2 separate regions of the Homo sapiens genome follow, and region 1 is linked to region 2. Evidence: fine-mapped expression QTL. A gene starts in region 2. The other region holds a variant in brackets. All regions are shown on one strand. Distances are between the middles of the regions.

Region 1 (5,000 bases), 32 kb before region 2:
TACAAGTTATTACTGAATTTGGCTCCAAAATGCTGTATCTTAAAGAAATTGTTGTAGCCGTGTTTCCAAGTTTTCAATTACATTAAGACTTAATGCTACAACATGAAATTATACCAATCATGATTAGAGATAAGAATAAACAGAACACACTAAGAGATACTTCCTCCTTGGAGAGCCCAGGTTAAGGAATGCTAGACTTTTTTTGCTCAGTTTAACGACTGTACACAATTACATCCACAAACCAACTTTGAGATTGTTTCTCAGTCATTCTTTTGATTCTCCAGAAAGACTCCTGACAGCTCAGGAAAACCCCACCCAACCCTGCAGTCCACTGCCTCAGCCACCGCCTGCTGAGCCCTCGAAGGGGTTGGGGGTCCTGGCACCCTGGGGCTACTTCTCCATTTTCTTTTTTTTTTTTTTTTGAGACAGAGTCTCTCGCTCCGTTGCCCAGGCTGGAGTGCAATGGCACCATCTCGGCTCACTGCAAGCTTCGCCTCCTGGGTTCACGCCATTCTCCTGCCTCAGCCTCCTGAGTAGCTGGGACTACAGGCGCCAGCCACCACACCCAGCTAATTTTTTGTATTTTTAGTAGAGATGGGGTTTCACCGTGTTAGCCAGGATGGTCTCAATCTCCTGACCTCATGATCTGCCCGCCTCGGCCTCCCAAAGTGCTGGAATTACAGGCGTGAGTACTTCCCCATTTTCTTTCTATTAACACTTTTCCCATTCCAAACAACTACCCCAATAAGCACCATAATAACCTCACGCTTCCTTTCAGCTCTAACACTCCATACCATTTCTTTCGAGATCAAGGGTTTTTAAAAGTTCACATATACGAGGAAGAAATGTAGGAAATGGCACACATTTCAGGGCTACTGAAGTGCCATTTTCAGCCAGAGGAAAATAGGTAGGACACATGACAGAACACAGCCCTGGCTCTCTGAGGACTTCCTCTGACCTCACCTTCCCAAACGGAGGGCCCCCCAGCTCCTGGCCTCCCCTCCCAGTGTCCGGGACTGGGATGCACAGGGGCTAATGAGCACCTCCCGCTCAGGGCAGCGTGAACCCTGCTCAACAGTCTAGAGAAACTCGTGGCGCCCGAAGCTAGGTGGCACCACAGAGCATCCAGAGACAACGACAGAGCGTGGTGCACTCACAGGATCAATGCCAAGGGGATAAGGGCCTCGGAACACTCCAGGAATGCTTGGATCCAGCTGCAAAATGCTGTTGTGTCTAACGACGCTGTCACTGTAACAAAAAGCAGAGTGAGGAGGCTGACCTGGGAGGAGGAAGGTCTAGGAAACATGCTTTCCACCCAGAGCATCACCAGCTATGGGACACTTACTTCCAAAGCACCATCTTCTTATGCTCTGCGGGTGGGTGGCTGGAGCTGTACATGGCCGACACGTTCCACCCAGAGCCGAACAGGTTGACTGACTTTGAAAAGCAGTCGTTGTAGATGAGGCCAGTGTACACTGAGAACAGCCCCATCAGCAGGAGGATGTACCGGCCATTAAAAAACATCCTCATGATCTGTGAAGGGCAAGGCGGGGGCAGAATATGGTTACTGGAGGGTGTCCATGTGACAGCTGTCGGTGTGGGCACGACCCTCACCACTCACTTCTCAGAAAACAGCCTCGCCCCGCAGACATCCCTGTCAGCCGCAGCTGACAGGCCACACACCTGCCCAGCACAGCCGCAGCCTACAGCAAACATCTAAGAGGTGTCTCTCTTTCGGTCACTGCTAATGCCACCTAACCAGATATATGAGCTGGAGTGTTTATATTTTTACCTCTTGTGACTGATTTAGTCTGGGATGATTTTCATTTAACACCAACAAGAGGGCAAATAAAAACATCACAAAGCCATGTCCGAAGTCTCCAAACATCACAGCAAATAAAAACGGGAAGGTGATGATGGTAAAGAGAGCTGCAGAAAAAAGGGAAAGAGATTTCTGATTCACAGCAAATATGGAAAACCTGAGTTCATTCAAACACAATGATACATAACAATCTTGACTTTCTCCAGAATTCACAAGATAGGATTGTGTGGTTACATTTAAAACCTTATACTTTTAAATAAGATAGCAAAAAAGTAATGGTCAGCCTCTCTTTCCAAATATCTATTCCATTCTTAGAGCAAGAATGCAACAATGCCATTGGAAATACGGGTATTTACAAATCAGACTTCCAACCTGGATTGACTTCTCTGTAGCTTCCGACTCCATAAGCATCCACGATGTTCTGAAATCCCTCGGTGAATTTGTTGGTGCGGATCCGAGTGGGGGGTGTTTCTTTTGTGGGGATTATATTCATGAATGAGGGGATTGTAGCACCACTCTCTCTCTTCCACATAAACAAGGAAAGATAAAAAATT[A/T]CTATCCAAGAAGAAAATAACTATCCATATTCAACGAATCTGGGTTACTGCTTTGTTTTTTGGTTTTTTTTGGTGGTGTTGTTTTGTTTTGTTTTTTTTTGAGACGGAGTTTCACTCTTGTTGCCCAGGCTGGAGTGCAATGGTGTGATCTCGGCTCACCGCAACCTCTGCCTCCCAGGCTCAAGCGATTCCCCTGCCTCAGCCTCCCTAGTAGCTGGGATTACAGGCATATGCAACCATGCCCGTCTAATTTTGTATTTTTAGTAGAGACGGGGTTTCTCCATGTAGGTCAGGCTGGTCTCGAACTCCCGACCTCAGGTGATCCACCTGTCTCAGCCTCCCAATGTGCTGGGATTACAGGTGTGAGCACCGTGCCCAGCCTTGTGTTACTGCTTTGGCAACGCTGTGTGTGTGGCTTTGGTGCAGGATTAATCTCCACTCAACAGGGTCAAGAGCAGCCAGAGGGCCTGGAGGAAAAGTCCATCTGTGAGGAATCAGGGGGTGGCAAGGGCGGCACTTGGGGCCTGTGGCCTCCAAGAAGGAAGGGTGAGAGCAGGACTGAATGCGCCGGAAGTGAATGGGGGCTGGGGAATGCGGGGCACGTGGGTATGGAGTCGGCTCAGTCACTGACAGAAAACCGACACTGAGTACTTTATCTCTTAAAAACGGTGAAGAAAGAGGAAGTTTGAGACAACTGCAATATACTTAATAAAAAAATGAGAAAGGCAAGAATAAACCAAAATGTCAACATGAATTCTATTATGGCAGAATCATAAATATAACTTTATCCATCAGTGTTTGCAATTCTTCTGAAATGCATTATATTGATTTATAATGAAAACACTTTTAAAATAAGGTAAACAGGTTATTGACAGAATAGTAGATTTTCTGGTCAAAATAAGTCTTTTTTTTTTTTTAAAGAAGGAGTCTCGCTCTGTCACCCAGGCTGGAGTGCAGTGGTGTGATCTCGGCTCACTGCAACCTCTGCCTTCCAGGTTCAAGCGATTCTCGTGCCTCAGCCTCCCAAGTAGTTGGGATTACATTGCACACCACCACGCCTGGTTAGTTTTTGTATTTTTAGTAGAGACGGAGTTTCACCATGTTAGCCAGGCTGGTCTCGAACTCCTAACCTCAGGTGATCTGCCCACCTCGGCCTCCCAAAGTGCTGGGATTATAGGAGTGAGCCACTGCACCCGGCCAAAATGTGTCTCTTAAAACGTATGCATGTAATGGGGTTCTGGGGAAATTCTCGAGGGTGGCACAGCTTTGAACGTCCCCAAGTCCCCTTCAGAACAGAAAGTGCAACCAGCTAGCAAGACCTAAAGCCTACGGATGGCATTTACAGCCAAACCACGTCCCCACAGTCCCCAAAATACAAATGGGTGAGGAAACCACCAACAGCTACAAGACCTACCCAGCAGCCTCCAGAGCAGAGGATGCAAGTAAGCAATGTGGCCTCCAAGGGGCCTGGGCCAACAACACCAAAAATGGCCAGAAAGAACCTCCCTGGGAAAGCAGAGGAGGCCAAACCACAAAAAGCAGCTGGAACTGGGAAGAGTTCTGTCCAGTCCAAGAGTAGGCGACGGCACAGGGGCCATGGGCAGTGAAGTCTGCAGGGGTTGGGGCAGGGCAGCCCAGTCCCTAAACTCACGGCACTGACCTGCCAGGTCCTCCCCTGTTGAGCGGCCACACGCTGAGGAGAAACTGCTGGGAGTGAGATCAAAACTGAGCAGGACAGGAACGAAAGAGAAAAGACAGAGGAGTTCACAAGAGAGACACAGAGGACATCTCAGATCCAGGACCCGACGTGTTTGCATTCAGTACACAAAAAATAAAAAAAAGAAAAAACCATCAGTGAGGTTAGGATCGCTATCCTGAACCTGCCATCTTCTAAAAGTTCCTTGAGTACCATAAACATCTGCCAGAAAACTATTTTCATGTAAATATACATTTATATTGCTTGTGTAATAATATAGAATCTCCTTGAGCAGGACAGGCATGGTGGCTCATGCTTGTCATCCCAGCACTTTGGGAGGCTGAGACAGGAGGGTCACTTAAGCCCAGGAGTTCAAGACCAGACACCGTCTTTTGTAGAGACCCCATCTCTACAAAAAAATATAAATAACTAACTAAATAAATAAATAAATTAGCCAGGCATAGTAGTGCATGCCTGTAGTTCCAGCTACTCAGGAGGCTGAGACGAGACGGGAGGATTGCTTGAACCCAGGAGTTTGAGATTGCAGTGAGCTACGACCATTACCACTGTTCTCCAGCCTGGGAAACAGAGTGAGACCTTGTCTAAAAAATGAATTTCCTTGAGCAGCTAAGCATCTTCACCATGTTCCATAAATCTTTTTTTTTTTAAACCTCCGCCTCTGGGGTTCAAGGGAGTCCCGTGACTCAGCCTTCCAAGTAACTGGGATAACAGGCACGTGCCACCATGCCTGGCTAATTTTTTTTCTATTGTGTATTTTTTGTATTTTTTAGTAGAGACAGGGTCTCGCCATGTTGGCCAGGCTAGTCTCAAACTCCTGGACTCAAGTGATCCGCCCGCCTCAGCCTCCAGAGTGCTGGGATTACCAGCGTGAGTTACCGCATCCAGCCTCAAAAGTCTAATTTCATTT
Region 2 (5,000 bases):
CTTCTGGAAAAAGATGAACAGCACTTTCTTCTCCTTTCACTGACATTCAGTTGAAAAGGATCCCAGGTACACTCTATGACTGGAGGTAGTGGCGCTTATTGAAACTGGAACCTTCATAGTGATTAGTACGTTTGCTCAAACCTGTAAGACTGAAGTGTGATAAGTGTCTTGGCTTGAGTACTAACCGGAAGGAAAACATCTACCTGTTACAAATGTAGGAGCCTGCTGCACCTGCAGCTGTTGCCTGAATGTTTTGGGTGCTATTCACAGCTCAGCGCAGCATCCATCAGGTGAATGGGTACAACTGCAGAAGTGGCTCCAGGAACCAGGAACCGCCCTGCATCTTACCTGCACCCTCGCCTGTCACTCAGGAGTCTCTCCATGACTTTGCAACTGCCTTATGGGGCTGATCTGGTATTAGATATCTGATATCAATGGATATCAGATCTCGGGTAGGGCTGATCCCTTTTGAAATTAAGGACACCTTAGGAAGATTAAGGGAAACAGTCAGGAGATGAAAGTGGTGGCCAGGAAATAAAATGTTCGCCTGAGTGGATTTCAATTCAGTCAGTAAGTACTTGCTTCACGGTCTCCCTTCCACACCCTGTTCTTTGCCTTCTTAGCACTTATCACAGCTCATAATCAGAGTGTGTTTAATCTGTCTCCTCCCACACTGGAAGCTCCAGGAACACAGGGACTGTGTCTGCCTTGCTCACCACCGAGTCTCCAGCACCAAAAACAGTGCCTGAACATAGCGGGCAGTCAAGAAAAGCTTGTCTGTTCATTCAACAAATGCCTATCGATGCCAATGACTGCCAAGGACTGCGTTAAGGTACTTACTCTCAGAGGTTGACAGTCCTTGGTGGAGACAAACAATAAACAAGTAAATGGACAAACAAATGTTTATTATTACTTGTTGGGGAGACAGCTTCCACTCGACAAACAATGACTGAGTTCTTAAGTCCTTACACACAATGGTATGTACAGCATTAAGCATCAGTGACCAAAACACAAAAATCCCTCTCCTCAAGCAGATGACATCCAGCTCCTTCCCATTTCTGGCTCTGTCTGGGCTCCTCCTGTTCCCTCCAACAAGGACCCTCTCCCCAGATCTTCCCCACGGCTGGCTCCTTTCTATTTGGGTCTCAGCTGAAATATCACCTTCTCCGGGAGGCTTCCTCGACAATCCCTTCACACTCACCTCCCGCCCGAATCACCTTCACATCACCCCGTTTCTTCTTTATGGCAAACCTTTTCTGGTTGACCTATTTATTTGGTTAATGCGCCCCCCTAACCCCCGTAAAGTTCCAAAAGGACTCCAAGAGGCCTTTGTGGGATTTGTTCTCCCGCTGAGCTCGGTGCCCGGAGCTGATGAAGACCACACGGGCGATCCTAACTAACTGGGGCAGAGCAGCCGCCGACCACACAGACGGCCGGCGACCCTGGAGTCAGCCCCGCGCTCCGGGAAGCTTTGGCCGCTGAGCTGGGGTGTCATCTTCCCCGTCTGGACAATGGGGACGGGGCGCGCCCTTCCTCGGTGCTCCCCGCGGGAGGGCCCCAGCGATGCGCGGGATTGGGGGCGCCAGGAGAGCAGGTGCGGCCCGCGTCTCCCGGGCGACACTCACGTCTCGGAACTGGACCAGGCCTTTCTCGCCCAGGGCGCTGAGGCACTCGTAGGCCGTGCCCGACTGCAGGAAGAGCTGCGCCAGGCACATGGTCTCGCTCCGGAACAGGGACCCCATGGCGGGCCGACCCGCGCCCGGAGGGGCTCGATGGGCGGCGGCGGCTCCGAGCCGCGCGGGCCCGCACACTCAGCCGGTGCGGCCCGGGCCTCGAGCTCTTCCTGTGGCCTGGCCGCGGCCCCGCACTATGGGGCTCCAGACTGCAGCGGCCGCCCCCGGTTCTGCCACCGCGGCCGCCGCTCCAGCTGCCGCCACAGCAGTCCGCGAGGTCCCGCCCCCAAGCCACTGCCGGTTCCGGTTCCGCCCCCGCGTCCCGCCCCCCCCGCCGGCCGACCAATGGACGCCCGAGGTTGTCGCCGCACGACGTGGCGGCAGGGCCAACCAGCGCGAACCCGGCGGGTACGACCACTGCAGCTGGCGCTCCGCCGGACTGGACGCAGAGCTAAATCCCGCGCGGCTCCCCGGCTTTCCTGGAGGAGTCTCGCCGAGTGTGCACGCCGCGAAGCTCACCCGTTCCTAGTGCACGACCCTGTGCTGCTGCGTGTGTGTGTGTGTGTGTGTGTGAGAGAGAGAGAGAGAGAAACGGAATCTCACGCAGTCCCACAGGCTGGAGTGCAGTAGCGCGATCTCGGCTCACTGCAACCTCCGTCTCCCAGGTTCAAGCGATTCTCCAGCCTCAGACTCCCCAGTTGCTGTGACTACAGACGCGCGCCACCCGCGTCCAGCTAATTTTTTTGTATTTTTAATAGAGACGGGGTTTCACCATGTTGGCCAGGCTGGTCTCAAAACTCCAGAGCTCAGGTGATCCGCCTGCCTCGGCCTCCGCAGTGCTGGGATTACAGGCGTGAACCACTGCGCCCGGCCCTGCTGCTGGTTTTTTATGGATAGGGTTTCCCTCTGTGGCCCAGGGAGGAGTGCAGTAGCACGAGCTCGGCTCGCTGCAACCTTGACCTCCTGAGCTCAAGCGATCCTCCCACCTCAGCCTCTGGAGGAGCTGGGATTACAGACGCGCGCCATCACACCCGGCTAATTTGTTTTTAAAATGTTTATAGAGAAGGGGTTTCATCATGTTGGCCAGGCTGGTCTCGAACTCCTGAACTCAAGCAATCCTCCCGCCTTGGCCTCCCAAAGCGCTAGGATTACAGGCGTGATCCGCCGCCCGGAGGGATCCTAGGCTTCTTCGTGAAGTTGGAGTGTGCAGCCAGCATCCCAATCCAGTTTTCAAACATTTCCCACCGACCTCGCAAGACTCCTCCTGCTCAGTTGCAGTCTCCCCTTCCCGCCCGGCCTGGCCACCACAGGACAATTTTGTCTCGCTAAATTTGCCACCTCCAGGCTTGTCCTGTCGATGGAATCACACAGCACCCAGTGTGTGTTCCCCACACTGACCGGGAAGCAGTGGCCCCCCGCCCCAGGCCGCAACCTCACCGCTGTCCCAGTCGAGTCTCTGCTTACATATCCCCTTCCTTGAGACTGTCCCTGGAGTCACATCCTTGTTCTATTTCCTTCACTGCACCTGCCACCATCTGAAATTATCTTGTCTGTGTGTTAGTGCCAGTCTTCCCTGCTAGAATGGAAGCTCCACCAAGGTGGGGACATTGTTTCTGCCACTGTGGTATCTCCAAGCCCCAGCACATAGTAGCCACTCAATAAATAGTTCATGAATGCATACATAAATGTATAAACTTAAAAAAGTTAAAACCATAGACACTCCAGACCCCATTCTGCCAAACTGAGTTTTTTCCTTCTTTTAAGTACAAAAGGCGTCCTCACAAAGCCCACAAAATCAAGCTAAATTACCTGTCATTTGGAAGTTTTAAATTTATTTTCCATAAATACCTGAAATCCAAAGCTAGTTACACTAGGCTGGGTGCCCTGGCTCACTCCTGTAATCCCTGCACTTTGGGAGGCTGAGGCAGGTGGATCACTTGAGGTCAGGAGTTTGAGACCAGCCTGGCCAACATGGCAAAACCCCGTCTCTACTAAAAAAATATAAAAATTAGCTAGGCGTGGTGGTGGGCACCTGTAGTCCCAGCTACTCGGGAGGCTGAGGCAAGAGAATCGCTTGAACCTGGGAGGTGGAGCTTGCAGTGAGCTGAAATGGCATCCCTGGACTCTAGCCTGGGCAACAGAGTGACACTCTGTTTCAAAAGAAACAACAACAACAAAAAGATACAGTAAGAACTGTGAAGGTGAATTCAAAGGCTGAAGTTCAGACAATAATTGACTCAGACCCCAGCTCCGTCAGTCCAGTACTGACCCAGATTCCTGAGTCAGCCCTAGAGGGGTCGGGTGAAGGCCCAACACCACCACAGTACAGATGCTGAAATTCACGGTATTTCCATCATGCAGAAACTTAGGACCTCTGCAGTGACTAGCTCATCCCCCTATTTGAAAGTGGACTCAGGCCGGGCGCAGTGGCTCATGCCTGTAATCCCAGCACTTTGGGAGGCCGAGGCGGGTGGATCACGAGGTCAGGAGATCGAGACCATCCTGGCTAACACAGTGAAACTCCGTCTCTACTAAAAATACGAAAAATTAGCTGGGCATGGTGGTGGGTGCCTGTAGTCCCAGCTACTCAGGAGGCTGAGGCAGGAGAATGGCGTGAACTCGGGAGGCGGAGCTTGCAGTGAGCAAAGATCACGCCACTGCTCTCCAGCCTGGGCAATAGAGCAAGACTCCGTCTCAAAAAAAAAAAGAAAAAAGAAAATGGACTTAAGACTGGAGGAAAATTTGAAATTGCCCCTGGGCAGGAACTCTGCAGCGAAGATGAAACAGCACATTTTATGTGGTGCTGGGTATCAGCAGGCACTAGGAATTCGATCAAAAAGTATAAAAGGGAAAATAATTATTTTTCAAAATTAGGCTTAAATAACATAGAAAATCCATCTGAAACAACTAAGTTACCTGGCACACAAAGAAAACTTACAGGTGATGTGCCATGTGGCCACTGTAGGACCGTGGCTAAAAACATCTATTCCAGGGCTGGGCACAGCAGCTCATACCTATAATCCCAGCACTTTGGGAGGCTAAGGCAGGTAGATCACTTGAGCCTAAGAGTTCGAGACCAGCCTGGGTAACATAGGGAGACCCCCTTCTCTACAAAAAAAAAAAATACAAAAACTAGCCAGGTACAAGCCTGTGGTCCCAGCTACTTGGGAGGCTAAGGTGGGAGGATCACTTGAGCTCAGGAGGTCGAGGCTGCAGTGAGCCGTAATTGTGCCACTGCTCTCCAGCTCTCCAGCCTGGGTAACAGAGTAAGACCGAGTCTCAAAAAAAAAAAAAAAAAAAAAATCCATTCTCCCCACTGAGTGGGGT

The links. PIP is the estimated chance that this variant, and not a neighbour inherited with it, causes the effect. A credible set is the group of variants that fine-mapping cannot tell apart.
Region 1: its variant is the best candidate, but not a certain one, in a credible set for the expression of ATP6V0A2 in whole blood (INTERVAL, PIP 0.54).

What each region holds. Positions count from the first base shown.
Region 1 is chr12:123,741,130-123,746,129 of GRCh38, reverse strand. It overlaps ATP6V0A2 (ATPase H+ transporting V0 subunit a2), which reads right to left. Exons shown (of 20, transcript NM_012463.4): 10 at 2,195-2,345; 11 at 1,793-1,929; 12 at 1,346-1,533; 13 at 1,158-1,248. Among named protein-coding and RNA genes, the nearest start is that of DNAH10, 19 kb to the left of the region's middle. The variant A/T (reference allele first, on the strand shown) is at 2,377.
Region 2 is chr12:123,709,308-123,714,307 of GRCh38, reverse strand. ATP6V0A2 (ATPase H+ transporting V0 subunit a2) reads right to left here and starts at 1,955. Exons shown (of 20, transcript NM_012463.4): 1 at 1,626-1,955. The coding sequence starts at 1,742. It overlaps LOC105370042 (a long non-coding RNA gene), which reads left to right. Exons shown (of 3, transcript XR_945477.4): 3 at 1-1,542. RefSeq lists a silencer at 1,581-2,130.